Regions from separate parts of the Homo sapiens genome. Here all the other regions are reported to be linked to region 1. The links are microRNA targets in miRTarBase. Many come from high-throughput screens and were not tested one by one. Region 1 holds a microRNA gene; each other region holds the end of a gene's coding sequence.
Evidence for each region. Region 1 holds the annotated microRNA hsa-miR-6871-3p (CAGCACCCUGUGGCUCCCACAG, at 4,861-4,882, shown strand). A microRNA usually pairs through its seed, bases 2 to 8, with sites in the 3' UTR of a target mRNA and lowers its output. Matches are read on the target gene's strand: a 7mer-m8 pairs with bases 2 to 8, a 7mer-A1 pairs with bases 2 to 7 and ends in A, and an 8mer does both.

Region 2: the mRNA of FAM3D is a reported target of hsa-miR-6871-3p. Seed matches in the 3' UTR shown: 7mer-m8 at 5,987-5,993 and 7mer-m8 at 6,131-6,137.
Region 3: miRTarBase lists NKIRAS2 as a target of hsa-miR-6871-3p. Seed matches in the 3' UTR shown: 7mer-A1 at 2,011-2,017.

The regions. Positions count from the first base shown.
Region 1 is chr20:41,164,197-41,174,636 of GRCh38, forward strand. MIR6871 (microRNA 6871) reads left to right here and starts at 4,827; the gene lies at 4,827-4,882. It overlaps PLCG1 (phospholipase C gamma 1), which reads left to right. Exons shown (of 32, transcript NM_002660.3): 12 at 1-5; 13 at 737-905; 14 at 1,049-1,171; 15 at 1,254-1,355; 16 at 1,443-1,630; 17 at 1,998-2,198; 18 at 2,280-2,399; 19 at 2,483-2,663; 20 at 3,656-3,733; 21 at 4,571-4,674; 22 at 4,883-4,979; 23 at 5,261-5,330; 24 at 5,916-6,073; 25 at 7,997-8,093; 7 more. The coding sequence ends at 10,313. RefSeq lists an enhancer at 9,319-9,368.
Region 2 is chr3:58,629,732-58,640,171 of GRCh38, reverse strand. FAM3D (FAM3 metabolism regulating signaling molecule D) reads left to right here. Exons shown (of 10, transcript NM_138805.3): 7 at 1-45; 8 at 2,947-3,031; 9 at 3,752-3,878; 10 at 5,804-6,226. The coding sequence ends at 5,893. FAM3D-AS1 (FAM3D antisense RNA 1) reads right to left here. Exons shown (of 4, transcript NR_134853.1): 3 at 7,512-7,633; 4 at 5,732-6,116. Among named protein-coding and RNA genes, the nearest start is that of FAM3D-AS1, 28 kb to the right of the region's middle.
Region 3 is chr17:42,023,026-42,033,465 of GRCh38, forward strand. NKIRAS2 (NFKB inhibitor interacting Ras like 2) reads left to right here. Exons shown (of 4, transcript NM_017595.6): 4 at 629-2,616. The coding sequence ends at 868. It overlaps ZNF385C (zinc finger protein 385C), which reads right to left. Exons shown (of 9, transcript NM_001392013.1): 5 at 8,594-8,759; 6 at 5,758-6,048; 7 at 5,025-5,221; 8 at 4,593-4,703; 9 at 2,551-4,108. The coding sequence ends at 3,872. Among named protein-coding and RNA genes, the nearest start is that of NKIRAS2, 8.2 kb to the left of the region's middle. RefSeq lists enhancers at 1,912-1,961, 5,732-6,520.

The DNA.
Region 1 (10,440 bases):
TCAGAGTGAGTCGGAGGCTGGATGACCCAGGGGTTAACTTGGCTCCAGGTCTCTCGTTCTAGAGGGACAGAGGGCAGAAAGACTCCTCAAATGCCCTGTCCCCTCTCCCTCAGCCTTTCATCTTTGTCCTTCCTCTTGGCCTCTCCTCGTCACCTGCTCCCTGCTTGAGCTGTTGCTTCCCAAGTTACACTTTCTGTTTCCTACGTGTTGGGCCCACTCTCTTCTTCATGGGTCCTTTAGACTGTAGAACACATGCTCTTCTCATCTTCAGAAAACATGCCCTGGTTTCTTTAGGCCAGTGTCCTGCCAACTCCTTTGCCCTCACAGCCCAGAAGATTGTCTCTGTTCCCTGTGTCCCATTCCTTCAATTCTGTTTACTGCTTAAACTGTGGTCACTGGTCTCCCTTAGCTCACCAGGGCTCTAACAGCTAACTTTGGAGGCTTCTCCTCTCTCCTGGCCTCTTTGGTGTGAAACATTTTTCTTGCACTGCTGAGCAGCCTCCATAATTGGGCCAGCTCGGGACTGCATCAGTTGCCACCCTTTGGTTTCCACTGCTGCCACAGCTGTAGAACCCCTCTCTGCCCCACCAGTGGCTATGGCCTGCCTCTTTTCTGGGATAGTTTTTACAGACAAGAAGCCCCCAGGCCCTTGGCTTCCAACAGCTCACTGTGAGGGGCTACTTAGACCCAGAGAATTGCAGAATCTGTTTCACTGTGCTTGTCCCCCATCCCGCAGGTACCCAGTCATCCTGTCCATTGAGGACCACTGCAGCATTGCCCAGCAGAGAAACATGGCCCAATACTTCAAGAAGGTGCTGGGGGACACACTCCTCACCAAGCCCGTGGAGATCTCTGCCGACGGGCTCCCCTCACCCAACCAGCTTAAGAGGAAGATCCTCATCAAGGTGGGGTGGCGGGCTTATTGCGGAAGCCCCACACTTCTCAGTGCCTTGCCCAGGCCATGGCTTCAGCTGTTGGGCCTAAACCTGGGTGAGGAGGTGGGGTGAGGACTGGGGTCTGCATTGCCCTGTTCTGGTTGCCCCTACAGCACAAGAAGCTGGCTGAGGGCAGTGCCTACGAGGAGGTGCCTACATCCATGATGTACTCTGAGAACGACATCAGCAACTCTATCAAGAATGGCATCCTCTACCTGGAGGACCCTGTGAACCACGTGAGGACTGGGCCAGGCTGGGGGTGGTAGGCCAGTGGGTGTGAGGACCCTGGCTCACAAGTCCCTCTTTGGTCTGTTCCAGGAATGGTATCCCCACTACTTTGTTCTGACCAGCAGCAAGATCTACTACTCTGAGGAGACCAGCAGTGACCAGGGCAACGAGGATGAGGAGGAGCCCAAGGAGGTGAGGAACCAGCTCAGGTCTGGGGGCTGGGCCAGGTCAGGCCTGGGCCAGGGTCACAGTATCTTTGCTGTTGCCTTCCCCTGACAGGTCAGCAGCAGCACAGAGCTGCACTCCAATGAGAAGTGGTTCCATGGGAAGCTAGGGGCAGGGCGTGACGGGCGTCACATCGCTGAGCGCCTGCTTACTGAGTACTGCATCGAGACCGGAGCCCCTGACGGCTCCTTCCTCGTGCGAGAGAGTGAGACCTTCGTGGGCGACTACACGCTCTCTTTCTGGTAACACTTCCCATGCAGATGCGTATGTTCAGTCAGCGTGTGTACACAGACATCACATCACCCAGAGATAATCAGTTAACATTTGAGCCTTTGATCCAGGACAATAATTAGGCTTTACATGGAACATAATTTCACCTACATACACACACACACTCTCTGTCTCACCCCCCCCCCATACCCCTCCCTTTTCGGTTCATTTGAAGCCCACACCTTTGGTTCATGTGACTGCCCACACCTGAGCTCCTCAGGAGATTGGCCTCCCTCCTTGAGGCTCCCTCCTTGAGTTCCACCCTCATTTGGGGTGGAACTTGGTCTTTGGGGCCCTGGCCTGTTTTCCCCAGCCTCCCTCACTCTGTGTCTTCCACAGGCGGAACGGGAAAGTCCAGCACTGCCGTATCCACTCCCGGCAAGATGCTGGGACCCCCAAGTTCTTCTTGACAGACAACCTCGTCTTTGACTCCCTCTATGACCTCATCACGCACTACCAGCAGGTGCCCCTGCGCTGTAATGAGTTTGAGATGCGACTTTCAGAGCCTGTCCCACAGACCAACGCCCACGAGAGCAAAGAGTGAGGGAAGGGCCTGGGGGCGGACAAGGCAGGGCAGGGCCATGGGTGGTGCTGGCCGGGCCTGACTCTGCCTGTTCTCAGGTGGTACCACGCGAGCCTGACCAGAGCACAGGCTGAGCACATGCTAATGCGCGTCCCTCGTGATGGGGCCTTCCTGGTGCGGAAGCGGAATGAACCCAACTCATATGCCATCTCTTTCCGGTGAGGGGTGTGGCACTGGGTTGTGGGGCCTTGCTTGGGTCTGAGCTGCCCTGACCCTGTGTGACTGTTTTGTCCTTGTGAAGGGCTGAGGGCAAGATCAAGCATTGCCGTGTCCAGCAAGAGGGCCAGACAGTGATGCTAGGGAACTCGGAGTTCGACAGCCTTGTTGACCTCATCAGCTACTATGAGAAACACCCGCTATACCGCAAGATGAAGCTGCGCTATCCCATCAACGAGGAGGCACTGGAGAAGATTGGCACAGCTGTGAGGGGGCTGTGGTAGACGGGGCATGGCAGGGGAGGCAGGAGAGACCCAGAATCTTACCAGTCTCTGGATGTGTGTAACAGCAAGACCTGGTGTGTTGTAGAAGTTCGTGGGAGGGCCCCTGACTCCAGCTGGGAGCCACAGTGTGGGTACCAGGAGGGTGTCTGCAGGAGGGGACATCTGAGCAGCATCTTTAAGGATGGGGACAGGCACATAAGCAGAGGGTTCCTCATGAGTCAAGATGTGGAGTGAGGAGGTTCTGGGGCTCACACTGGGAGAGGTGCACACAGTGGAAACTCATCCACCTGGGCTTGGCCTGGACTCTGTCCTAGGGCAGATGAGATGAGGCTACCCAAGAGTGGTTGTGGAGCCTCCGCCTGGTGGATGGTATGGAGGGCAGAGCCACAGGAGGTGAGACCAGTGAGGGAAAAAGTCAGGACCCATGGCAGCACAGCTGGTGATAAGGGCCCTGGACAGAAGGAAGGGGTCTAGGACCAGAAGATCAGTTGAGAGACTGCTGTCGTCAGTAGACAGGGCTGGCTGGGGAGAGAGAGGCCTGTTGTCCACTGGCACCTGGGACTCAAGTGATGGAGAGGAGCGGCAGGAGGAATGTGGGGAGTGGGAAGGCTTTTCCTGACTTTGGGCTCAGCAGTGAACCAACAAGCCACTGAACTAAAGCACTGAATATGGGTAGTCTGTGAAGGGCCCACCTGCACATAGCTCAGAAATACTTGGGAGTTTGGGCATTTAGGACCTGAGAGATTTTAGAATCCTGGGCTGGGCCTTACATGTAAGAATGTGAAGAAAGGAAAGGGAACAGTGAGGCCGGGCCTGAGGCCTCTGAAGCCGTCTCTACTGAGGTCGAAGGATCCCTGTGGATCAGGTGCAAGTTTGCTGCACTGGGGGAAAGGGAAGCTGCTCCAGAAACCAGTAGCTGCTTTCTACCTCTGGGCTCTGGGGCATTAACATATCCCATTGTGTCCTGTTTCCAGGAGCCTGACTACGGGGCCCTGTATGAGGGACGCAACCCTGGCTTCTATGTAGAGGCAAACCCTATGCCAACTTTCAAGGTACAGCTCAGGCCTCTGGGCATAGGAAGCTGGGGAGGGTCCCCAGCTGCTTGGGGCTTCATTTCTGTGTTCTGGGCCATCTGTGGTCTTTGTGGAGAAGTGGTGGTTGTGGTTTTCCGAGGCCCAAGAGGTTGTGAGAGATGTGTGGTTGGTGAGCGACCGCAGGTCTCCCAGGGCCGACCCACTCCCTAGCCCCTACCCCTTAAGTCAGCAGTGACCCTTTAAACTGCTCCTGTGGGTGACCCCTGTTTCCTTCCTGGGCAGCAGCGGGGTAGGAGCTGGGAGGCACACTGGCCACTCATTCCCCGGCCTCATGGAGCCCTGTTACACAGGTTCTTTTTTGTTTTGCCTTTTTCTCTAAAAAGGCCTGGGCCCTATTTCTCACCCCCTCCCCTCCACAGCCAGGGGACCTGGAAGGAAGTTTTTCTTTCCACTTCACAGATGAGTGGTAGGGTCCCATCCAGGCCCCATATGCTTCCAGGTCCCGGGGAGGCACTCAGGGCCACTGCAGACCCTGCCTTCTTGGCCTGCCAGCCCTGACTCCTGGGAGCGGATTCAAGGTTCTCCCTGTGGCCCAGGGTGGGGCTTAAGGTTCCACCTGGGTCCCGAGGTATTTCACTGGCAGAGGCCCTGCCTCTCTGATCATATCTGTCCTGGAGCTTCCCTGCAGGGCAGTAACAAGAACTATAACTAGGGCCTGTTGATGGCAGTGTCATCTCCCACTGGCCTGACCCCAGGCAGGGAAGCCCAAGCACATGTGTGTGTGCACATGAAGCCCCAGGTTGGCAGTGGCAGGGAGAGCCTTTCTGCTCTGACTGGTGCTTCTCACCTCTGCAGTGTGCAGTCAAAGCCCTCTTTGACTACAAGGCCCAGAGGGAGGACGAGCTGACCTTCATCAAGAGCGCCATCATCCAGAATGTGGAGAAGCAAGAGGGAGGCTGGTAAGCCAGTGGTGTGGTAGGCCCAGAGTCCAAGGGCCCCAGTGGAGCTGGGGCCCCAAAGACATGCATTTGTGATGTGCTTGTCTCCTGTGTGCACCAGCAGTGCCTGCCTCACCCTGGCTTAGGCATGGGAACCCCTACCAAAGGATACCCTCCTCATGGGAGTTCGGGGTGGTTGCTGGAGGTCAGCACCCTGTGGCTCCCACAGGTGGCGAGGGGACTACGGAGGGAAGAAGCAGCTGTGGTTCCCATCAAACTACGTGGAAGAGATGGTCAACCCCGTGGCCCTGGAGCCGGAGAGGGAGGTAAGACCAGAACCACCTGAGTAACAGCATTCCCTATTCCCAGATTCTCCTTGGCATGCCCCCATCACACAGTCCCAAGCACGCACGTGCATGCACAGACACCTGTCACATGGGCTGGTCGCACAGCCCATGTGGCCATGCACGTAGTCTCCCATATACCTGTGCTACATTTGGCAGTCACAGGTACACCCACAAGATGTATTTGTCCCATGCACACGGATATCCCCTCACACACATATGCAGTAGCCATGCTGACCATTGGTGGGCTTTGCTTCCCACAGCACTTGGACGAGAACAGCCCCCTAGGGGACTTGCTGCGGGGGGTCTTGGATGTGCCGGCTTGTCAGATTGGTGAGCTCCCATCTGTTTCTCTTGCCCACTGTTCCCTAGGGTGAGATTCTTCTTTGTATCTCTTTCCTGCTCCTAGGGAGGAAGCTGATGGCTGAACCCCAAAGTCTGCCCTCACTCCAAGCTCTCCCCATGCTCTGGACATCCCCTTGACACCCTGGGCTCCCTTTGTCACTGTCAGCTTTGACCCCTGCATGTTTACCTATGCCAGGCACTGGGGAACCCGTCAGAATCAGCAGAACAAAGTTGATGCTGCTGGTTGGCTGACATCCCCAGGCCTAATGGGTTGTACCACAGGGATGTGACAGAGGCTTGGAGATGGGGTGGAGAGGGAGACACGGCCTGAGGAAGAAGCATGAGTCAGAGCTGAGTTGGAACACTGGCTCCACCACAACCAGCAGTGACTTGTTTGAGTTGTAGCGTCGTCATCTGTCAAATGGGCCAGCAGAGTAGTCCTTCCCCTCATGGGGTGTGGGAAGGAGGAAATGGGATGAGATAGAACTCATTTGAGCCAGTGCCTGCGGTGTGGAGTGGGGTGGAGGGGGTGAGATGTCTATTCCCAGCTGTTATCTGCTCTCGCCCTCCCAGCCATCCGTCCTGAGGGCAAGAACAACCGGCTCTTCGTCTTCTCCATCAGCATGGCGTCGGTGGCCCACTGGTCCCTGGATGTTGCTGCCGACTCACAGGAGGAGCTGCAGGACTGGGTGAAAAAGATCCGTGAAGTGGCCCAGACAGCAGACGCCAGGGTGAGATTCTGCTGGAACCTTCTGGGGGGCAGTGTGTGGGCCCGTCAGGCAGCTGAGGCCTCCAGCTCCCAGCACAGGCCCCCTCAGAGCAGTGGGGCAGCCGATGGCCTATGCTAGATAGGCCACAGCCCCTGCCTTAGCTAGGGATTGAGAAGAAACAGACACATAAGATGCAATGTGGTGTGTTTAGGTTGTGTTGAGTTTGAGATACTGATGGGTCGTTGAAGTGGGTCTGCTTAGTGGGCAATTGGATACACAAGACCAGAGGTAAGAGGAGAAGTCCTGGGCTGGAAGCAGGAGTGGAGTGGGGGCTGAGGCATAGAAGGGATGAGGTGGTGTCGCATAGGAAGAGAACTTGGGATGGATTGAGAAGCTCCATATGAGAAGGCATGGGCGAGGAAAGGAGCCCAGGAAAGGCAGGTCAGACAGACTGCAGGCCACTGGTGAGGGAGAGGGTCTGCTGTGTTGAGAGCTACAGAGGTAAAGACAGGAACGATAAGAACTTGCAAGTGCCCTTTGGATTCAGCAGCAGCTAATAGCCCTTGTGAGACTTTTGAGCTGCATCAGCAGCATGGCTGGCATTAGATGGCAGTGGGCAGCAGGGAGTCTGGAATGGCAAAAGCAGAGCCTTTGTAGGGCCTGTCCTTGAGGGAGAGAACAGGTGACTGGGGTTTGAGCAGGCTCTCATGCAGATGGCTGAAAGGAGCGAGCAGCGTGTGGGAGGAGATGGAGCCCAAGCTTAGCTGGTAGGACCAGCCTTCTGGAGAAGGTGGCCTCTTCCCCTGAGCCTGGGGGAACAGAGAAGTATTCTCAAGGGTTAGGGAATTCCTACTTGGTGGCCCTTTCACCAAGTGCATTTGGTAGATGGGTCTGTAGCTGCTTTGGAGAGGGCACCCGCAAGCCAAATAGAGAAGGGATAGGGTGCTTGCCAGGCTGTCCCCTAGAAGGAAAAGGTGCTGGCATACCAGGTGGTTGAAGGACTGGATCTGGGGGTCTAGGCTGAAAAGGGAAGAGTCTGAATGTAAGAGCCACTGAGGCCGGGCGTGGTGGCTCACGCCTGTAATCCCAGCACTTTGGGAGGCCGAGATGGGCAGATCACTTGAGGTCAGGACTTCGAGACCAGCCTGGCCAATATGGTGAAACCCTGTCTCTACTGAAAATACAAAAATTAGCCGGGCATGTTGGCCGGCACCTGTAATCCCAGCTACTCGGGAGGCTGAGGCAGGAGAATCGCTTGAACCCGTGAGGTGGAGATTGCAGTGAGCCGAGATCACGCCACTGAACTCCAGCCTGGGCGACAGAGCAAGACTCTGTCTCAAAAAAAAAAAAAAAAAAAAAAAGCCACTGAAAGAAAGTCCTCCAGGAGAGGATGGGTTGGGGTGCTTGTAAGTGGGCTTCTGTAGAGATTTGGCATGGAGATTTGCCATGAAGAGTGGGTGGTTATATTTGAGTTGGGGGCGCTGAGGCAGTGAGGATCATCCTTAGGACACAGATGGAAACCAAGCCAGGGGCCTGTATCCCCAGTGCAGTCACAGGTAACACAGAAGAATCATTTTTACCCCAGCATGAGGCTGGGTAATAAATGGTCAGAAAGTGTCATTTGGGAGTGTGGCCAATTCCAGGATCCCTGGAAGGTCACTGGGAACATGGGTGGTGATGAGGAGTCTGTATCCCCCACCCCCCCTAAGAGGGTTGGAGGGCAAATGTGTCCTCTGGGACAGAAAAGAGGAAAGATGATTTCAGGATGAGGCTGAGGACAGAGCTCCCTCATTTACTGTTGGGTGTGGTGTCTGGAAGGTACAGGGGAAGGTGGGAGAGGGGCCCAGAGCACCTGCAGTGTGGGCATGCCCAAGGTTGGCAGGGGCTTCCTTCTCCTGGGCAGGGCTGTAGCCTGGGGCTACAGGGCCTTGTGTGTGTCACCAGCTCACTGAAGGGAAGATAATGGAACGGAGGAAGAAGATTGCCCTGGAGCTCTCTGAACTTGTCGTCTACTGCCGGCCTGTTCCCTTTGATGAAGAGAGTAAGGGCCAGGGCCCAGGCGGGGTGTGCATGTGCCTGGAGGGCCTGGTGGGTGCAAAAAGAGTATTTAGGTATCCCCCCAACACTTCCTGGGTGGGCGGGCTCTGTAAGTGTTTTCCCTGTTTGGCCCAGAGATTGGCACAGAACGTGCTTGCTACCGGGACATGTCATCCTTCCCGGAAACCAAGGCTGAGAAATACGTGAACAAGGCCAAAGGCAAGAAGTTCCTTCAGTACAATCGACTGCAGCTCTCCCGCATCTACCCCAAGGGCCAGCGACTGGATTCCTCCAACTACGATCCTTTGCCCATGTGGATCTGTGGCAGTCAGCTTGTGGCCCTCAACTTCCAGACCCCTGGTGAGGAAGTCCCCTGTGAGGAGGGTGAGGAGGGGCACTGTGGGGCAGCTGGACTGGAATACACCATAATCTGCCTCTTCCAGACAAGCCTATGCAGATGAACCAGGCCCTCTTCATGACGGGCAGGCACTGTGGCTACGTGCTGCAGCCAAGCACCATGCGGGATGAGGCCTTCGACCCCTTTGACAAGAGCAGCCTCCGCGGGCTGGAGCCATGTGCCATCTCTATTGAGGTGGGTGCTGCTCATCTGGGCTTCAGGGTAGGAAAGGGGCTGCTTGCCGTTGGAGTCTGTTTATGTTGAGTTCTCCAAAAGTAGGTATTTTCAGGCATCAAGGTGGTCAGGGTGGGTGGGGCCTGAGCTGAGTCTTTGAAGGGGTGAAGATAGCATGCAGTCACTGTATGCATCTAGGACGTGCAGAGCCATGGTGTGACTTGTTCTGATGACTTGTTTTGTTCTGATGAGATCTTTTTTTTCCCTAAGGGGAGGTCATTTAAAAGATTTCTGTGTTAAAATAGTAATGGATTTAACATGAAGTAGATTGCAAAACTCACATGGAAATTTTGGCTAAAGCTCAGACTTCAGATAAACTACAGGCAGCAGCTGCTCTGGACAGCTTAGGGTCCCTGATGTCGTGAGGGACTCCATGGGCAGTGTCCCGGGGGCCCAGCAGAGGGCGCGCTGCCTCCACTCCACAGATGCTGACTGAGCCTCCGCAGTGGGGAATTGGAGGGAGCAGGAAGGACAATCCCAGGCCCTTCTTTGTCTGCCTACAGGTGCTGGGGGCCCGACATCTGCCAAAGAATGGCCGAGGCATTGTGTGTCCTTTTGTGGAGATTGAGGTGGCTGGAGCTGAGTATGACAGCACCAAGCAGAAGACAGAGTTTGTGGGTCAGTCTGTCTTCCCAGTCATCCTCCTCATCCTGCTGGGGCACTGCAAGCCTCTCCCCACCAGTCATCCCATCCTCTCCCACGGTGACCTGAAGCCTTTTGTCGTTGCCTTCACAGTGGACAATGGACTCAACCCTGTATGGCCAGCCAAGCCCTTCCACTTCCAGATCAGTAACCCTGAATTTGCCTTTCTGCGCTTCGTGGTGTATGAGGAAGACATGTTTAGTGACCAGAATTTCCTGGCTCAGGCTACTTTCCCAGTAAAAGGCCTGAAGACAGGTGAGGACCATTCCTGGAGGCAGTGCCCCTGCAATCTTGCTGGCAGGGTGGGGCTGGGCCCCTTGCTCTGTCCCTCGTGGGCTGAGGGCCAGGCTTTTCCTCCTCCTAGGATACAGAGCAGTGCCTTTGAAGAACAACTACAGTGAGGACCTGGAGTTGGCCTCCCTGCTGATCAAGATTGACATTTTCCCTGCCAAGGTATCTGCAGCAGGGGTGGGCTGGCCTGGGGTAGGTGGGAGGAGAGCCAGGCAGCAGCCTCTAGAAGTGCAGAGGAGTCATTGACCCTCTTGTGCACCTGGCTTCGTTGAAGCAGGAGAATGGTGACCTCAGTCCCTTCAGTGGTACGTCCCTGCGGGAGCGGGGCTCAGATGCCTCAGGCCAGCTGTTTCATGGCCGAGCCCGGGAAGGCTCCTTTGAATCCCGCTACCAGCAGCCGTTTGAGGACTTCCGCATCTCCCAGGAGCATCTCGCAGACCATTTTGACAGTCGAGAACGAAGGTGAGGAAGATGGAGGGGTGCTAGAGCCAGGAAGGCAGTGGCTAGGTCCTCCTTCTTCAGTGTTTCTTTCTCCTGGGTAGAAAAGTTGTAATATTGTCTGGCATTGGGCTGCAAGGCCCTGCCTGCCAGTAAGGACACTCTTCCCTTCTGTCCAGGGCCCCAAGAAGGACTCGGGTCAATGGAGACAACCGCCTCTAGTTGTACCCCAGCCTCGTTGGAGAGCAGCAGGTGCTGTGCGCCTTGTAGAATGCCGCGAACTGGGTTCTTTGGAAGCAGCCCCCTGTGGCGGCCTTCCGGGTCTCGCAGCCTGAAGCCTGGATTCCAG
Region 2 (10,440 bases), not on the chromosome of region 1:
CGGGAGCTGTGCTGGGACAGAAGGCATTTGACATGTACTCTGGAGGTAGGTGCCTCTGCTGACACTGAAGTCACAGTCGGGGGTGCGGTGCAGAGGGCTGAGCCTCTTCATGTGGCAAGGGACCTGGTGGCTCGAGGTACCTGGTGCTTCTTTCCACAGGAGGCACCCAGGAAGAGGTGCGGTGGGGGGTTGAGGGTGTCCTGCTGCTTTCGAAACTCCTTCTGGCCATCTCAGTTGGGATCTCCCAGACTCAGATCCTGAGACAGGGATTCAAGTGCAATGCTTTATTTAAGAAGTGAGCTCAGGAAACGTCAGATGGGCAGCTGGAACCCTGTCCTCAGCCCAGGGCTTCATAAGACCCCACCCGGCCCTCCTCCATCTCCATCCCAACTCATGGGTGAGCAGTCCGCAGAGCTAGGAGTGTGCTGACCTGGAGTCTGCATCAGGGCCCACGCAGGTCTCTTACCAGGTGTGCCCCACCCCCAGGCTTCTGACACTCCCCCAGGATGGAGGGGTGACCAGGGGCTGGCTGTTGCTTGATGGGAGGGTGCTGTGGATGGAGCCTGGATGGGCCCACTGAAGTGCCCACATGCGGTGTGCAAGGTCCCTCCTCCTGGTACAGGATAGAGCTGAGGACAGGGGCAACAGGAGATGGGGACAGGCCAGGGGCTGAGGACCAGACATTCTGCCTGGAGTCCTACTGATGTTCAGCGTGGCCTGGGGCCAGGTTTATGGAAAACGTCCAGTCTCCGGTGTCAGAGACTACTGGCGGCATGACCTGAAGCAAGTGATGCCTCTTGAGCCTCAGTTTCTTCATCTGTGACATAGAGGCAGCTATAGTTTCCACTCCATAAAATTGATGTGAAGATTAGATAACCTGAAATAATTGGTGGAAGGGTATCCAGCCTGACTGGTGGAGGGGTCCAGGCAAGCTATGTTAGTCTTCTCCCTTCCCTCCTCTTCCCCTTCGCTCCCCTCTTCCCTCATTCCGTCCAGATGACTCAGAAGCAAGGAAATCATCTGTCAGAATGAAAAGGAAAAAAAGCGTAAAGATGAAACTAAGCTTTAAAATGCCTTATGATAAACTTGAATGTAGCCACGGCTGATGGGGACCCAGAAACAGAAGCATTGTGAGCAAGTAGTCCTTCCCTTCAGGAAACAAAAGGGGATGATGGCTTTTTAAAGTGAGGTGATCATTAGCAGAAGGCATGTTTTATTTTTTCAAATACCCACCGTCCATCCAGACAAGCACCAGACCGTAATATCTGCTAACAACACAAATTAATGGTGCTTTAAGAGCTCCCTCCTTTTGTCATAAAAGTTCAAGGGCCATTTCTTTAGAAGAGTGACTGTGGTGGTTGACCGGAAACCTCTGTCACTGAGCTGGCTGGCAGCTGGCCTTAGTTGGGAGAATGGCTTCTTCCCCAAGGTCCTAGAGGTCCGCACTGGAATACTAATAATCAAGGCCAGCTTTGTGGGCCTATGACCTGGGGACAGGGCAGTCACACGGGGCCCATGCTTGGAAGAATCTCACACTTGACTTCATGCTCTGCCATCGTGGTCTTGAAATACTTAATCATTTTTTATTAAAAGGCCCTGCATTTTCATTCTGCACTGGGTCCTGAAAATTATGCTGCCAATCCTGCTAATAATTTTTGGTTCCATTAGAGTACGCTTACTGTATGCCCAAAGTTATTGTCACATTTGCACTTCATAGAGGTTATAAGCAGGGCTGTTACTCATCCTCATTTGACAGATATAGTCTCTGCTTTAGCCACTAGGCTGCTTGTTCCCAAACTTGAGCCCACTCGAGTTGCACCATATCTAGAATAATATCTGCATTATTAGTATTTTTCTTTAAATTGGATCACTTTTTTTCTTACCTAAGTAAATATATCTTAAAAGGAAACTATATTACTGCCTTAAATGGAAAGCTATTATCACTTGTTATGCAGGGAAGGTGACCATAAAAATAATCACAATGGAGGGCCCTGGGACAGTGGCTTATGCCTGTAATCCCAGCACTTTGGGAGGTCGAGACAGGCAGATCACCTGAGGTTGGGAGTTCGAGACCAGCCTGACCAACATGGAGAAACTCCAATTCTACTAAAAACACAAAATTAGCCAGGCATGGCGGCGCATGCCTGTAATTCCAGCTACTTGGAAGGCTGAGGCAGGAGAATCGCTTGAACCCAGGAGGTGGAGGTTGCAATGAGCGCAGATCGCGCCATTGCACTCCAGCCTGGGCAACGAGAGAGAAACTCTGTGTCAGAATAATAATAATAATAATAATCACAAGGGAAACAAATCAGCCTCTTCACAGTGAGCTGGATGCTGATGCCTCCCCCAGGTGCTAAACCTAGAGCTGTTCTCTGTTAAATAGAGAGCTTGGCAAGTTAGGGAGGCATTAAAGACACACGCAGAGCCTTGCTCCTTGACACAGCAGGAGAGTTGTATTCATAGTCTACTCGAATTCTCTCCCAGGGATCTCAGTTGTCTGAGGCCACGTGCTATACCACCTAAAGTCAGCACAGATAATCTGGGCATTGTCCAGCGTAGAATGGGGTCTGGGGTATGCAAAGGGCCCAGAGCACCTGAGAGATGATGGCACTTCGTCCCCAGAGGGGTAGGCACACAAGGGCCCTTCTACCAGTGGTGGTCACCCTCAGCTGCAAATCCCTGTCACGAGGGGAATTTCTAAATTCCAGTGTCCAGAAGCCACCCCACATCACCTGGATGAGTTCCCCTCACTCTGGTCACTCTGCCCTCCCCTAGGACAAGGGCTACAGGGAGCTCCACCTGGGATGCTCTTCCTCCTGGCTTCTGAGCTCAGCCCAGTGTCCACCGGGCCTAGCTGACTCCTGCATCATGGGGCAGTAGACAAGCATGAGAATGACCAGGGCTCATTTCCCCTAAATCACCAGCACCTTTTCCTTCCTCCCCCAGATGTTATGCACCTAGTGAAATTCCTTAAAGAAATTCCGGGGGGTGCACTGGTGCTGGTGGCCTCCTACGACGATCCAGGGACCAAGTAAGTAGAAAACTCTACCTGCCAGGCCACACAGTGATGCAAACTGAATACCTTCAAACCCTGCACACCCTTTTCTGCTCTTTTGCCAGATCCATTTTCTGGCAACTTATCTCGAGGAAATTATCAGACAAGTATGCAAAGAAATGTTCTAGGAGGTTCATCACAGCCTTCATTACCACAGTGAAAAACTGGAAACCCTCTCCCTGTCCAATAATAACAGCTGACTGGCTACAGAAACTATGACATACGGTGACATAGGATATGATATATACACAAATGAAGATAGACTGCATCAAAAATGATGGTGCGGAAAGTATTTAAGGACGTGGAAAATCGCTCACCCTCTAGTGCTAAGTGAGGGGAAAAAAAAACACTGTATGGAAATACATACACTGATCACACTAAGGGGAGGAGGGGTGAGACTGTATTTCTTAGTTACTTCTTTGTGATCTTCCATATTTTCCAAATGAATGTGTATTGTATTTGTAAATAGAGCAGTACTGTTTTAACACATCTCCAGCCCCATCTGAAGCCCTTTTAGAGAGGAAGTCTTGAAGCCCTTTACCCTGTCCTTCCTGAGTGCAGCCACGTTCTCTGGACACCCCCAGGGCAGATGCTGAATGGGGAGAAGAGTGGGAACCTTGCCCCATGGGAATCCCACCACCTGATGCCCCTGCGACCCACCCCCGCATCCTGACCATCCTCTCTGGTCCTCTGCAGAATGAACGATGAAAGCAGGAAACTCTTCTCTGACTTGGGGAGTTCCTACGCAAAACAACTGGGCTTCCGGGACAGCTGGGTCTTCATAGGAGCCAAAGACCTCAGGGGTAAAAGCCCCTTTGAGCAGGTGGGTTCTGGGCCACAACCCGGCCCTATGAAGGATGCATGAGGAGCTGGGTGGTGGTAGGAAGGAGTCACCCATTCACCTCCCAGGGGCCTTAAAATTGGGAGGATTGTCTGGGGAGAGGCCCCTGGCTGTCATTCACTCCAAAGGCCAGGGTGGTCTGATTGGCCAGGAAGCTGCCTTGGCCATTTCGCAAAAGCTGGGTCATATATAGATACGCAGGTATACAGATAATTATCAGAAAAGGAAGAGGGAAAAGGAGAAAAGAAGGATGATGGGCAAGTGAGGCATGAAGGAACGAGAAAGAAATGGAGACATGGAGCTGTGTGGCGGGGAAGGGGATCCCGGGGAAAGGAGCAGGATGCCTGTCCCCATCCCTTCAGCCTCCCTGGCGAGGCATGGAGAAAACGAGGAGGGAAGTCAGAAGGCAGGGAGGAGGCCGATGCCATCATCAGACAAGAGGTGCTGGAGGGGGCAGGTGCAGGGAACCGTGTGCTGAGCTCTAGGAAGGGCACCAGGACTGGGATGGGAGGATTTCTTTCCTAAGCTAGAAAATGTGGTCTTGGTCTGTATGCGTGTGTTTCTAAGAGGATGTATTTGGGTAACTAGAAATTACTTGAACGCAGTGAAGAACGCAGGAGGCCGGTGGGCGGGGGCGGCCGGGTGTGGTTCCCGAATGTCCTGTGGGGGTGCTGCAGCAGGGCCCTAGCAAGAGGCAAGAGGTCTGAGGCTGCATGGGCAGGTGGTGCTTTCCTGCCCCAAAGCGTGGGCTCCAGACCCAGGGGAACCGGCAAGACAGAGGAGGCGTGGGAGTACAGGAAGCCCAGCATCATCTTCATCCATCTGCAACCAGCTGGCCGGGACCGACACACAAAAATGAACCAAGCACCCTAATGGGACTAAGCCGGTCTGTTCTTAGTCCTCACACTTGGGAAACTGGGTTTTAGGCAGGTAGCATCTAGAATCTCTTTTTTAATTCCTGAGAGTCAGCCACAATGATTCCAACAGCAGATTTTGCCATTTACGTTTTTTTCTTTCATAATCCAAACCTGAGCATTTTAGACACAATCCTAAGTGATTTTATTCTTCTTACATACTTATTACTAGTATATATATATTTTAGAGATAGGGTCTCGCTCTGTCACCTAGGCTGGAGTGCAGTGGCACAATCTCGGCTCACTGCAGCCTCGACCTCCTGGGCTCAAGCGATCCTCCCGCCTCTGCCTCCTGAGTAGCTGGGACCACAGGCATGTGCCACCACATCCAGCTAATTTTTTTATGTTTTCTAGAGACAGGGTCTCCCATGTTGCCCAGGCTGGTCTTGAACTCCTGGCCTCAAGTGACCCTCCTTCCTTACCCTCCCAAAGTGCTGGGATGATAGGTGTGAGCCACTGCACCCCACCCCTTATTATTAGTATTAATTAATATTATGTGGTGGTTCTGCCACTTACCAGCCAGTGACTACGGGCAGTGACCCTCTGTGCCTCAGCTTCCCCATCTGTAGAATGGGATGTAAACAGTGCACACTCCCTAGGGCCACTGTGCAGATTAAATACATAAGGCCCTGCAGAACACCACGTGGCATACAGCAAGCGCTCAAGACATGGTCGGAGTCTTCTTTTTATTGTTGCTATCATTATTGTTATTTGAGGTATCCTAGAGGGACACAGAGAATTTGTGGGGAGGGGCCAGATCTCTCCAACAACTGGTTACCCTTCAGGGCGTGAGAGCAGTTAACTGGGCTCTGATCCCATCTCTGAGATCTTGAGCAAGTTGCATCCCCTCTCTGAGCCTCAGTTTCCCCATCTGTGAAGTGGGTTAATAACATCCCACACCCCCATTTAGGTTTAGAGCACAGTGTCCATGTGGGCATGAGTTCTGAACAGCCTCACTCACTGCCTATATTTCTCTGTCTTCTCTCTCTCTAGTTCTTAAAGAACAGCCCAGACACAAACAAATACGAGGGATGGCCAGAGCTGCTGGAGATGGAGGGCTGCATGCCCCCGAAGCCATTTTAGGGTGGCTGTGGCTCTTCCTCAGCCAGGGGCCTGAAGAAGCTCCTGCCTGACTTAGGAGTCAGAGCCCGGCAGGGGCTGAGGAGGAGGAGCAGGGGGTGCTGCGTGGAAGGTGCTGCAGGTCCTTGCACGCTGTGTCGCGCCTCTCCTCCTCGGAAACAGAACCCTCCCACAGCACATCCTACCCGGAAGACCAGCCTCAGAGGGTCCTTCTGGAACCAGCTGTCTGTGGAGAGAATGGGGTGCTTTCGTCAGGGACTGCTGACGGCTGGTCCTGAGGAAGGACAAACTGCCCAGACTTGAGCCCAATTAAATTTTATTTTTGCTGGTTTTGAATGAGCTTTCTGACCACTCCAGTGGCCACGTTTCTCCCTGGGATTGAACTGCTCCAGACTCAGCATGGGCCATGGGTTCAGACAGGTCTGTGACAGCTTCAGGCTCCCCCTTAGGCAGCTGGGAGGGAGCTGTGTTTCTAGGATTTCCCATGGGCCTGAGAGAATCCTCAGTTCCTGCATAACATGTGGGATGGACAGGAACAGAGGGAGCTAGGGACAGGATGCAAGAAATACTGTCATCACCCTCTGTCTGAAGGAGAGCTGGAGCAAGTCCAGAGCAGGAGTGGGAGAGGAGGGGCACATCTGAACCTGGCTGGAAGGAGCCGCCAGGCTGTGCTGCAGGCTTCAGGGAAGGCAGCCGGGCTGTCTCCGCCCCAGGAGCGGACCCTGAGACAAGGACTCAAGGGCAGCCAGTATATTTGGGAGGTGATTGTGGGAAACACCAATAGAGAAGTAGGGAAGTGAGATGGCAAAGGGAAGGAGGGGAAGGCAGCCAGTGAAGGGTATGGTTTCAACCCAGCTACCCCTGTGGGGACTGGAGCTGACTCCCACCCGAAGCTCTAGGAATCGGGGTAGAACATGCACCTTGGAGATACTCCACCCGGGAGTGAGGGAGCTGGGGTATTTACACACCGACTCCCACTAGTGGTTTGTTGAGGGCTTCTGGTGTTGGGGATGATATGAATTCCTAGGTGCTTCTTGTCTGCCCTGCCTAGGGAAGAGTGGCCCTCTGTGGCTTCACAGCAAGCCCCCAGCCAAGAGATGGCAATGCCAGCTGCAATGGCAGGAGCACATTGAAATGGGAAGGCCCAAGGATACGGTGTCAAGACCTGCCTGAGGTTTCTGAGAAGGGCCCAGTTCCCAGGCTCTAGACTAAGTCTTGAAAGGAGGTCGTGGGGGCAGAAAGCATTGCTACTCAGCCTCCTGGAGCATGTGCTGGGGACACTACACCTCATGGAGAAGAAACCCTCTGCCCAAGCACAGATGCCCACCAGTGGTCTGAGACTCACAGCTCCCAAGTCCTGGGGCCAGGGAGCACTTCAAATGTGCCAAGATAGCCTGGGGTAGAGACAATAGTGTGTGTGAACCTTCCACCAGGGGCCACGGCAGGTGGGACACGGGCTACAATTGCAGTGATATCAAAATCAAGGTCCAGGCCAGGTGCGGTGGCTCACGCCTATAACCCCAGCACTTTGGGAGGCCGAGGTGGGCGGATCAACTGAGGCAAGGAGTTTAAGACCAGCCTGGCCGACATATAAAAGTTAGCCAGGTATGGTGGCACTGACCTGTAATCCCAGCTACTTGGGAGGCTGAGGCAGGAGAATCGCTTGAACCTGGGAGGCGGGGATTGCAGTGAGCCGAGATTGCACCACTGCACTCCAGCCTGGGTGACAGAGCGAGACTCCATCTAAAAAAAAAAAAAAAAAATTCAAAGAGCCGGCGGGGAGCCGTGCTCAGGGTTGGCTGAGGAAGTCAGAAGGTGCCCATCCAGACATCCTGTCAATTCTGTCACTCCCTGCCCAACCCACCCCAGCTCACCCTCACGGATGAAAGCGGGAGCATGCTGGCAGGCCTGAATAACCACTTCCAACCACATCAGTAGACTACCTGGAAAAACATCTGCCCAGAAACCTGCTCTGGGAATGAAGGTGGCATGAAATTTTCATGATGACCATAAACACCTTTGAGAGCTCGGAAATTTCACTTTACAACAAGCAGGAGTACCTTGTAAAATTTTTAAAGAACATATAAAGACCTCTAAAATGAGCTCATGAGCAGGGACCAGGGCTAGGCAGAGGGCTCTTGGCAGTGGCCACTATTTTAAGACATGGGGTAGCTGCCTCATTGAAGAGAAGACACATGGACTTTTCCAGAAACTGCACTGCACAACACTTCAAAGAAGACTGAGAACATGTCAACTGGCTCAATCAGAGAATTCAGGGAAGCGTCCCAGGTGCCCTTTCCCAGATTTTGTTACTAATGGTCAGTCTGAACTCTTCTTTGGAGAATTGCCCTTGGGCTACTCATACATTCTTTGAGCACAAGTGCAAAGAAGACAGACCAGGAAGCTGGGGGTGTGTACACCACCCCAGGATGGTCCTTAGCTAATGACTGGCAGGTATGGGAACGTGAAAGGCCAGCTCTTTATTTTGGGGCATGATGACGACCACGAGGTGCAATTTACACTCCAGGATTCCCAGAGGGATCAGGCGGGAACTGGGACTTTGCCTGAAAGTGTCCCTTTGCTTACCTCTTTCCCCTTTCCCATCCTGCTCCTCCACTCCCTTACCAGTGTCCCCAGGGGCCAGTCCTTAACAAATCACCTACACGACAATCCCTATCCCGAAGTGGGATCCTGGGGTACCCATCCTAAGAGAGGTGGTGGGCATGGCCAGCTGGATGGGACTGAGCCTGAGCCTGGGCTGGGAGATAAGACCTCCAGGTCTGCAGGAATTGTTGTCATAAAAGGGATCAGTTCTCAAGGAGAAAGAGCTCAGAGTGGGGGAGCTGCACTTGCCACTGCCATGTGGAGCCCATGGAAGAGGCAACGTGCTGTTCCACACCAGGGAACACAAGGCAAAGATTAGGGATCATGCCCCACTCCAGCTTCCCACTCCTTCCTCAGATGCCCAGAATAAGTCAGAAGATAAGCCCAAGTAGCCATCATTGTACCCCCATAACCCATCAAGGAGACTGCATTCTCGAGCCAGCCACACTAGGCCCCTCTTGGGTGGGTGTTACAAAAGTGGCAAACACCTGTCAGACTCTCAACGTCATTTTCAGGACATTGTGGCCACTATAGGGACCCCCAGGTCAGCTCAAGCTGTAAAGAGTTGGGTCTTTATCGCCAAGATTTTCATCACTCAGCAAACCTGATATGCATCAAGAGTCCGGCAGGCTTGGGGATGCTGCAGTGAAGAAAACCCAGCACCGTTCCCACTCAGTCTAGCAGGGGATACAAATCCAGAGGCGACATGGCTTGGCAAGGGGAAAGACTGCAGGACCGCTGCCCCAGCCTTGGGGGATCCAGGAAGGCATCCTGGAGAAAGCAGCACCCATGCTGAGCCCTCAGGAGTGTGTAGGAGCTCACCAGGCAAAGAAGGGAGGGAAGGGCATGTCAGGCCAGGGAACAGCATGAACAAGGCCTGGAAGGGGCAGAGGATGGGTAACAGGGCTGAGTGGGAGGTCAGAGCCCGAGGGGCCTTGTGAGCTGGGCAGAGGGCTTGGACTTTGTCCCAGGGCAGGGGACACACTGGGAGATTTAAGCTGGGGGCAAGGTGACCAGAGCTGCATGTTTTGAAAATTCCTTGCTGCTGTGGGAAGGAGTGGAGGAAGGGAGGCCAGTGAGGAGGCTGCCATATCATCCAGGAATAGAGGGTGGTGGCCCGGACCAGGGGCCTGTCCCAGGGATCATCAGAAAGTGAAATGGATAAGACTTGGGACACATTTTCTCACTGGGGTCGACAAGCCTTCAGGAATCTCTGCAAGCTAATCGTGGCCTCAGAACTGGGGGCTTGGATTTGCCTCCCCACTCCCTGCCAATGTGCCTCCCACCCATCCCAGGAGTGAGGATGGGGCTGTGAGGGGTGGGGTCGTGGAGAGAGCTTTCCAGAAGCTGTAATTCTTGTCTTCACCAGTAGGTGGCGGCACAAGCTAGAAAGGGAAGGGTGGCAAGGTCTCCCCACACACCCAATTCGGGAAAGGCTGTTGCGCCTAATGAACTCATTATCTGGGACTTCCCAATGGGCACTGGACTTATCTTCGGCCTTGCTGATAGTGTAACAATTGCAGCACCTCACTTCTACAGAGAATTGCAGTTCTCCAGACGTTCTGCTCAGAGCTTTACATGAATTACCTCATTTCATCCTCATAGCCCCCTCGTCCACGGGGTGGGAACCATTGTCATCCTGTTTTACACAGAAGGAAGATGAGGCTCAGAGAGGTCAAGTGACTTGTCCAAAGTCACATAGATAAGGAGTCTCAGAATAAGGGCTGGAATTCCAGTCTGTCCCCAACATTACACGAAACAGATATGTTTGCCCTAAACCTACTCTCAGGTAAACAGAGTTTCTCCCATCCTCCTTCTCCTCCTCTCTTCCCCACTTCCCCTTTTTCTCCTCCCCCTCCTGCCCTGCTCCTGAATGCCTCTGAAGACTTTTGAAGATTGCACAGAACCTCAGAGTTAGCATTCTCAACACCTGCCTTCATTGCTTT
Region 3 (10,440 bases), not on the chromosome of region 1:
AGGGTCTCACTCTGCCACCCAGGCTGGAGTGCAGTGGCATGATCACAGCTCACTGCAGCCTCAACCTCCCAAGGCTTAGGTGGTCCTCCTGCCTCAGCCCCCTGCTAAGACTACAGGTGCATGCCACCACACCTGGCTAAGTTTTGTATTTTTAGTAGAGATGGGGTTTTGTCATGTTGCTCAGGCTGGTCTCAAACTCCTGGACTCAAGCAGTCCACCTGCCTCAGCCTCCCAAAGTGTTGGGATTACAGGCGTAAGCCACTGCATCTGGCCACGAAGGCCCTTCTGTTCTCCAGAATCCCACAGTAAGCTGCAGGGTTCTGGGAGTGCTTCCTCACCTGTTGTTGAGCCAGAAACTGACTGCTAATAATGAGCATGTATGGGCAATACAGAGCTGGTGATAGAACTCCTAAAAGGAGGGCTAGATGGAGGCCAGAATTTGAACAGAGGAAAGAGAAAAAAAGCAACCATCTCCTTCCCCACAATGAGTGGTATGGAATCTAGAAAGAGATGAGATATCAGCCATTGAGCTTTCCTCTCATAGAACTCCTAGGTGGTTGCCAGCCCCCATGTCCATTCCTGGTTCTATGGTACATTCACAGGCCTATGCTCTGTCCCTCTTCCCCAGGTCACCATCGTGGTCCTTGGCAACAAGTGTGACTTACAGGAGCAGCGGCGTGTAGACCCAGATGTGGCTCAGCACTGGGCCAAGTCAGAGAAGGTGAAGCTGTGGGAGGTGTCAGTGGCGGACCGGCGCTCCCTCCTGGAGCCCTTTGTCTACTTGGCCAGCAAGATGACGCAACCCCAGAGCAAGTCTGCCTTCCCCCTCAGCCGGAAGAACAAGGGCAGCGGCTCCTTGGATGGCTGAAGAGCTGCCGTTCCTCTTTCACGATCCCAGCCCCATTTCAGTGTCTGGGGCTCTGGTAGATGTGTTGAGGGCAAAGTAGAGGACAAGCTGTCTTTCCCAGTCAGCCAGGGAGCTCCCCGCCAGGCCACGCCCCAGCCACTTTGCTCCCTCTCACCTCTGGGAAGTGCAAATACTCTTGGTTGACATCCCCTTCCTCAGCCCTCCCAGCCTACTCCCCATCCCAGCTTTTAGAGGATCTGCTCCACTGTCTCCTGGGGCAGTTGTGGGTCACTGTCCCTTCCAGCTGCCCCAGACAGGAAGCAGAGTCACCACGCAGCAGTGTCCCTTCTTGGGTCTGAGTTCCTATTATAGGTAGGGGCCCCACCCTCTGGGCTTCCCATCAGCGACACACACACACTTATGGCACCAGCCTGGACTCCAGAAAAAGGGTGTCCAGGTATTGTGTGTATGCATTTAGTTGTGCACACACAAATATGCTCCTATACTGGCATTAGGCGTCTCCTCATCCCTCACCCTGACCTTTCTCCTGTCCTTTTCTTGGCTGGAAGAAGTTGGCCTCCTGGGAGTGTAGTTTTCTGTTTTAAATCCCCCACCCCTGGCTGGGCTCAGTGGCTCACCCCTGTAATCCCAGCACTTTGGGAGGCCAAGGCGGGTCGATTACTTGAGGTCAGGAGTTCACGACCAGCCTGGCCAACATTGTGAAACCCCATCTCTGCCAAAAATACAAAAGTTAGCCGGGCGTAGTGGCACATGCCTGTAATCCCAGCTACCCGGGGAGGCTGAGGCAGGAGAATTGCTTGAACTCAGAAGGCGGAGGCTGCAGTGAGCCGAGATCGTGCCACTGCACTCCAGCCTGGTCAACAGAGCAAGACTCCATCTCGAAGAAAAAAAAAAAAAATTCCCCACCCCTACCAATTGTTTTACTTCCTCTTCCTGCTCAGGGAGCAGATGGGCCTCACTGGTTGAGATGGAATAGAATAACTGGGCTATGAGTCACCAGCCCACTTTGTGACCCAGCAAGACCTTTCCCCTCTCTGGGCATCAGTTTCTCATCTGTAAGATGACCAGAGTTGCTTAGATGATCTCCTAGATCCTTTCCAGTTCTCTTGATTTCGTAAAGCCAATGGCTTCTCCCTCTTTAAGGTGCTATGCCAACCAGCCCTGGAGGCTGGGATCTGCCGCTCCCTCCAGCCACCAGGGGGCAGGAGTGCACTACCTGCTGTCAGTCACCAGAGTGGCCGCTCAGTGCCCAGCCCGCCAGCCTCGCTCTTGGAGGCTGCTCTTTATCCTGCCTGTGGTTTTCAGCTCAGAGCTGGACTTCTATTTATAAGTTACCTGTATTTATATTTATATGCCCGCTCTCATGGTGAAGGCTGGACAAGGTGCTCCTCTGGCCCCTCCTTCTTACCTCAGATGCCTGAACAGAACAAGGCAAACCCGTAGCAGCCTCTCAGGAGCTGACAGGTCCTCTTTCGGGGCTCAGGAGGGTGGGCACACACCCAGCGGCCTGCAGAGTAAGCTTATTACCCACAACTGTGCCCGCTTTGTGCTTCTAAGGTGCACACCTAGCCTAGGTGAGACACTGCAGCCAGGCAACCACCGACACACGCCCCTTCTCAAAGCCAGAGGTGAGTGGGGCAGGTGCCCGGGGCTGGGTGAGTGGAATTAGGACACACACAGGCTTGGGCTTCAAGTTCATTTATTGATGCATTGGTTGGACACAATAAAACCACAATTGTTATCAAAAAGTTTCCCTCCCCTCCCCCTTTTTCTGGTTCTCCCATTGGAAATGTCTTTAAAAAACAAAAAAAAGATACAGGGGGATACTGGCAGGGTCCCATATTGTGGGGTGGGGAGGGGGCAGTGCTGCAGTGGAAAGGAGTTTGTGACATTGACATTGACAGCATGAAAATGGGTCTTGCCAGTGCATGTGAGACTGCCTCCCAACACTCAGCTTCACAGTGGCAGGGGCTGGTTGGGAGAAGGGAAAGCTGAATTTAGTGCTAGGACCAGTTTGGAGTGGGAAGCTGTAGGGGAAAGCTCTTCCTTTGGGAGCTCTGCGGGGGGTTCGGTGTTAGCTGAGTCCATAGTCTGAGGGAGACCCACACCCGCCCTCCAAGAGTTGGGGTTCAGGAAGTCAGAGAAAGGCTAAGAAGAAGAGCTTCTGAGGGATGAGTTACTCCCTCAATATTAAGACTGGGCTTATCAGCAAGTATCACTTGAACCAGGGAGGCAGAGGCTGCATGCAGTGAGCCAAGATTGCACCACTGCACTCTAACCTGGGCAACAGAATGATACTCTCAGACAGAAAAAAAGACTGGGCCCATGAATGCCCAGAAGACTTAAGATTAAAACAAAACCCTGGGCCCAACCAGAACATCACCTCCTCTCTTAGTCCCACCCCTTCAGAGCAGATGAAGCCCCCAAAAGCTTTCAGAACCAGCCCCACTACCTCCTTGGCTCTGCCCCACCTTAGCACTGCTGATCGAAGGACTTTTGGGTCCCCCTTTCTCCTCCATGGTCCTCTGTCACACTCCCATGGTCACCTTGTCCTGACAGCCTTGAGCCTGCTGCAGCTAGAGACCCCATCCCTATCTCCAGTGAAGCCCCAAAGCCTAGGAATAGAGGTCAGAGAGTCGTCCCCTGGCTAGGAGAGGATGGCTTGTAGAAGCTAAGATTCCTAGAGTCTGGCCATGTGGGTCTTGGGTGGAGGAAAGTGAGAGCACCACATGGCTGGGGCTGAGATTTTGCATAGATCTTTGGGGTCTGTCAGGGTGGGAAATGCAGGCAAGCCTAGGATTAACCCTGGAAGGCCTGCGAAAGGAGGGTGGGGACAGTCCTTGGAAGGCAGCTGCCCTTAAAACTAGCCCAGCTCTTTCTGGATCGGGCAGGACCCCTGAAGCTGTTCACAGTCCCTGTGGCATGTAGGAAACCAAGGTGTCTCAGGACAGGAGGAGACAAGGAGTGGCTATTGGGAAATCAGCTCTGGCCTCCCCATGAGGGCTAATAAGGGGCAAGGACGATAGGTCCTGTGGCAGGGCGGACAGCTCCTGCTGGGGTGCGAAACAGAGCTGGGCCCAGGATGGGAGCCGGGAAGAGGGTAGTGGCTGCTGTAGGGGCAGGGCGGAGGGCCAGGGGCCCTGGCAGAGCACAGATGGCAGTGGCTGCGGTGGGGAGCGGGCTGGGCAGGAAGCGGGCTGCCAACGTCTTGGTGAGTTGCTTCTGCAAGGCCAGTTTAGACTACACGGAAAAGAAAGGAATGGACACAGTCTCCACCCCAGAAAACCCCACCCCCTCCCTGGGGCCCATCCTCAAGCTTTTTGCTGCAGGGAAAGCGTGCCTTTTAGAGTTCCAAACCTAAATCCTCCTCCCTTCCCACCCCCAAACATTCATTCCGAAGGGCTTTCTCCACCACCTGTCTTCCTGTCCAGAGGGAGGAAAGTCTCAGCATGGGAGAAGGGAGGAGGATTTACGGGATAGAGATGGTCTCTAGGAGATGCACGCCCACCCCTCACTCTTGCCCCTAAGATGACTATCCCAACCCACCTCCCCGGAAATTCCTCTGCGCAGATCCCAGTTCCCAGGCCTAGCTCTGTCACTGCCCAGCAGCCTCATTGCAGGGTGGCCTCTTTTCCTGCCCCACCGCAGCCCCCCCATCTGGCCCTCCCAGCCCACCCTCTCCCCTCCTGACCCAGTCCCAGCTCTGTTGCCTGGAGACAGATACCTTGAGGATACTCACAGCCAGCGCTGCGTGCTTCTGCAGCTTGCTGTGCTGGCTGGAGGGCTTGGGGGTCTTCCCGGCCAGGCGGTCTTTGTGCCTCCTGCTGCTCATGTGCTAATGGACAGACAGACAGACTGGGAACAAGATGACAAAGCCCAAGGACCCCAAGACCATCATCCTCGACTCTTCCCCTTCCTCTATCCACAGCTCATACATCCAAAGCACACAGACTGGGTCCTCACCCTGGGGTAGGCCCTGGGAAGGGGAGGTGAGTCTTGGCCTTTGCCCTTAATTGGCCCACTGGCCTGCTGGCCTCGCTTCTCCAGCCTGCTCTGCTGTGCCCTGCCTGCTCTCTTCAGGGTCCCTCCCTCTGCTGCCCTGCCCCCCAACCCCCTCCCCTGGCTCCAACCCCAGTCACAGCCTCACTTCTCCCACCTGCTTCAGTTGGGTCTCTGAATTGACCTGGAGCTGACAGAGAGCACAGTGGAAGGCAGGGCTGGGCCCCTGCCGGCCGCCCCGGCCCCCTGTGACTCTCTTGGCTTTGTGTCCGGCACCTCCCCTGGACACCGGGCGGCCCCGGCTCCTCCGGGGAGCCCCTCGCTGACCTTCCATCATCCACCGGTGCTTGGCTCCTGGAGAGGGAAGAAGGCAGTCTCTCAGCAGCAGGAAGGGGTTGCAGGGGCCACAGAGACCCCCTCCACACTCATGCAATTTGGCTCTCCCTGTAAGCCTCACGGCTGCTCTGTGCACACATCGCCCTCCAGCCACACGTGGTTTCCCCTCCCAGCTTCTGTCCTTTCATGCCAGCCCCTCCTATGAAAGGCCTTTCTGCACTACAAATAGCTGCCTTCCCCTTTGCTTTGATCTCAGTCCTTTCCTTCTGGGTGTAATCTAAGGAGAGAGGCAGATGTCTCCTGTCTCCTGTGGAGTGACCCTTCAGAGATTTAGCGACCTTCAGTTCTTGCTGCCTCAGACTTCTCTTCCCAATTCTCCTTCCCCAAGGAGTAATGGGAGGACCCAGAAACGTCCGTTCAGTAACACACAAGCACAAAGCCTCCGCCATCCAACCCTTGAGCGAAGCACCCAGGAACTCAAGCCTGCCCTCATCTGGCGAGGCTTAGCTTCTGTCCCACCCTTTCCCTGGGCTCCAGCTCCTGGGACTACTGACCTGTGTTGTGAGCCTGAAGCTGGGAGGCCGAGTTCACTGTCACCTTACACGTGGGGCAGTAGAGGTGCCCCTTCTCACTCCTGCCTTCCCCACTCATGCTGCTTCCCACGGCAGCTGCCGCTGGCTCAGGCCCCGGTGCCTCTCTCCCAGGCTCTGGGGAGCAAGGTGGGCAGGAGGAAGAAGAGGATGAGGAGGCAGCATCCAAGAGCTCTGAGTGGGCTGGCTCCCTGCATGTAGGGTCTGGAGTTGGTGGTGGCTGGAGTGGAGGCCCAAGAGGAGGGGCTGCAGGAACTGCTGCAGAGATGGAAGAGTGTGAGACCCAAGATGACGCTGCAGACCACGATCTTCAGCTCTGACCATGGAGGTGGCCTGGAGGGCCCCTGGTGGATGACCAGCACTGAATTCCAGGCCCCACTTTTCTACCAACTCACTGGGCAGACTTGGGCCTCAGTTTCCCCATCTGAAATCATTAAGTTGGACACAGTGGTCTCAGAAAGCCCTCACAGCCCTCATATCCTTATTTGCTAACTTAAACAGAGATCACCAAAAAAGATGTACTAGAATGTTCAGAGAACACTATTCATAATATCATAAAACTGAAACTACCCACATGTCCACCAACAGGAGAGCAGATTTTTAAAAAACAATGGTGCGGGCTGGATACGGTGGCTCATGTCTGTAATCCGAGCACTTTGGGAGGCCGAGGCAGGTGGATCACCTAAGGTCAGGAGTTCGAGACTGGCCTGGCCAACATGGTGAAACCCTATCTCTACTAAAAATACAGAATTAGGCGTGGTGGCACATGCCTATAATCCCAGCTACTCGGGAGGCTGAGGCAGGAGAATCGCTTGAACCTGCAAGGTGGAGGTTACAGTGAACTGAGATCACACCACTGCACTCCAGCCTGGGCGACAGAGTGAAACGCCATCTCAAAAACAAACAAACAAACAAAAAAAACACAGTGGTATGGGCCAGACGCAGTGGCTCACGCCTGTGATCCCAACACTTTGGGAGGCCAAGGTTAGCAGATCACTTGAGTCCAGGACTTCGAGACCAGACTGGGTGACACAGCGAAACACCATCTGTACTAAAAATACAAAAATTAGCCAGGCATGGTGGCACATGCCTATAGTTCCAACTACTTGGGAGGCTGAGGCAGGAGAATCGCTTGAGAGCCAGGGAGGTGGATGAGCCTAGGTCACACCACTGCACTCCAGCCTGGGTGACAGAGCCAGACCCTGTCTCAAAAAAAAAAAGAGCTTTTAAGAATTTAAATTAAAAAAAAATAGTGGTATGATCCACGGTGGAGTACTACACAGCAATGAAAGAGAACAAACTACAGCTACACGCAAAAACATGGATGAATCTTACAGATATAATGAATGTTGATGAATGTTTGTGAGAGATGAATAAAAACTAGATACCGGCCAGGCAGGGTGGCTCACGCCTGTAATCCCAGCACTTTGGGAGGCCGAGGTGGGTGGATCACAAGGTCAGGAGTTCGAGACCAGCCTGGCCAATATGGTGAAACCCCGTTTCTACTAAAAATACAAAAATTAGCTGGACGTGGTGGCAGGTACCTGTAGTCCCAGCTACTTGGAAGGCTGAGGTAGGAGAATGGCTTGAACCCAGGAAGCAGAGGTTGCAGTGAGCCAAGATTGCACCGCTGTGCTCCAGCCTGGGAGACAGAGCGAGACTCTGTCTCAAAAAACAAACAAACAAAACAAAAAAAACCCACAAAACAAAACAGATACAAAAAAACCCCTGCACACTCTATGTTTCACCAAAAATAGGTAAAGCTGATCTATGCTGAGAAAAGTCAGGATCGTATTTACCATCAGAGGGGTTGTAGTTAGTTGAATAGTGTCTCCCCCAAAATTCACATCTATCTGGAACCTCAGAATGTGACCTTATTTGGAAACAGGGTCTTTGAAGATAAAATTAGTTAAGATGAGGTCATGCTGGGTTCGGGTGGGATTGATCTAGTGACTGGTACCCTTATAAAAAGAGCTTGTGGAAACACAGGGACACACAAGGGAGAATGTGGAGATGGAGGTGGAGATTGGAGTGATGCGTCTATAAGCCAAGGAGTGCCAAGGAATACTGGCAGCCACCAAAGGCCAGAAGAGAAGCATGGGACACTTTCTCCTCTAAGCCCCCAAGAAGGAACCAATGCTGTCAACGCCTTGATTTCAGACTTCTGGCCTCCAGAGCTGTGTGAAAATAAATTTTTGTTGTTTTCAGTCACCCAGGTTGTAGTCTCTTTTTTTGGGGGTGGGGGTGGGCAGGGGAGGTTAGAGACAAGGTTTTGCTCTGTCACCCATAGCTCACTGCAGCCTCGACCTCCTGGGCTTAAGCAGATCCTCCTGCTTCAGCCTCCTGAGTAGCTGGGACTACAGGTGTGCATCATCATGCCTGGCAAATAAATTTTTTGTAGAGACAGGGTCACACCATGTTTCCCAGACTGGTCTCAAACTCCAGGCTTAAAGCAATCCTCCCGCCTCAGCCTCCCAAAGTGTTAACCATCACAACATGTGAGCCACCATTCCTAACTTCACAAATGAAGTCATTTGTGAAGGCAGCCCTTGGAAATGAATACTTCAAGGTAATGACCAGGAGGAGGTGCAAGACAAGCTTCTGAGGTGCTGGTAACGTGTTTCCTGATCTGGGTGTGTTCAGCTTAGGAAAATTCATGGCGTGGTACACTTGTGTGCCTTTGCCTGTCTGTATGGAATACTCCAACACAAGCAAAAAGAATAAGCAGAAATCTCTCAACCCCTTGTCGGAAACCAGATTTGGAGTGGAGACGTGGGAAAGAGAAGAGCTCAGGACTGACCTTTACTCTGTGGCTCTCCAGGGGCTCCACTGGCCAGCGTTGGGATTGGGGACACTACAGCCCCATCCTGGGCCTGGGTGTGTGGCCTCTGCTTGCTCTTGGCAGCCTCGACAGCCTTGAGTTTTCTGGCGTGTTTGTGGCCTTTATAATGTGCCTCGGCCTGGTTCTGGGGAGGGGAGGGCAAGAGGTCACCATTCACTGGCTGAGTCCACATGCCCCATCTGTGAACTGGAGCCCAGCAGGGGGACAGGTCAAAGGGAGGCAGGGCTCAGGTCACACAAAGGGCAAGTCCTTGTCCTTGTCATCATCATCACCATAGCACATGTGGCTCTGAGGTTTGCAGAATGTGTTCTCGCACATGAACTCCAAGGCAGGCTGCCTCTGGCTTCAGATCTGACCCAGCCACTTACTAACCACATCTTTTTGTTGTTGTTGTTGTTGTTTTTGTTTTTTGTTTTTTGAGATGGAGTCTCGCTCTGTCGCCCAGGCTGGAGTGCAGTGGCGCCATCTCAGCTCACTGCAACCTCCGCCTCCCGGGTTCAAGCGATTCTTCTGCCTCAGCCTCCGGGGTAGCTGGGACTACAGGCGCCCGCCACCACACCCGGCTAATTTTTTGTATTTTTAGTAGAGACGGGGTTTCACCATATTAGCCAGGATGGTCTCGATCTCCTGCCTCGTGATCCACCCGCCTCAGCCTCCCAAAGTGCTGGGATTACAGGCGTGAGCCACCACGCCTGGCCACTAACTACATCTTTAGGCAAGTAACATCTCTCTGAGCCTGAGTCTCCTCACCCATAAACCCTGTGATGATAATACTGACCTCATGGGGTTGTCAGAATTACATGGGAACATGAATTACAAGGGCCGAGTACATAGAGTAGGTGCTCAATGAATGTTAGTTATCAAGTGTATCAATGCACAAATGGAGAAAGCAGAGCAATCCCCACACTTTGGGGTGTATGTACCCCAGAACATTCATCCCTTTGTTCATTTGTTCAACAAGTCATTACTGAGCATTTGCTATTTGCCAGGCACTGTGCCCGGGGTCCGGCAGGAAGAAGAATGGTTCCTCCCTCAGAACGAATTCTCTCCTCCATCTTTTTTTTTTTTTGAGACGGAATCTCGCTTTGTCACCCAGGCTGGAGTGCAACGGGAGCAATCTAGGCTCACTGTAACCTCTGCCTCCTGGGTTCAAGCGATTCTCCTGCCTCAGCCTCCCGAGTAGCTGGGATTACAGGCACCTGTCACCACAACTGGCTGCTTTTTTTTTTTTCTTCTGTATTTTAGTAGAGATGGGGTTTCACCATGTTGGCCAGGCTGGTCTCTAACTCCTGACCTCAAGTGATCCACCCACCTTGGCCTCCCAAAGTGCTGGGATTACAGGCATGAGCCACCACGCCCAGCCTCTCCTCCATCTCTTGCAGGACTCATGGAACCAGAAGGCCTGAAGGGAATCCTCAAATCTGGTCTGTCAGTGTCCTCCCTCCAAGGGTCCTCACTTGCTGCTCCCCGGCCCACCTCCTTGAAACATGGGAAAGACAGGCCCCCATGGCCCCTCCCTGGATGCTATACCACAGCAGTTCTGCTGGCATCCAACCGAAACCCCAGATTGCCTAACAGGAGGTAGACCTTCCCTGGGAGGCCAGAATGAGGTTCCTCCTCTACCTAGTGGTAAGATGTAGTAGAAAGGGGTAGGCTGTAGTAGAAAGTCATAGACCTTGGGGTCAGCCAGGCCTGGATTCATATCCCAGCTTTGCTACTTACCAGCTGTGTGGTCTTAGGCAAGTCACTTAACCTCTCTAAGGCTCACTTTCCTCATCTGAAAATCGGGGATTATAATAGCGCCT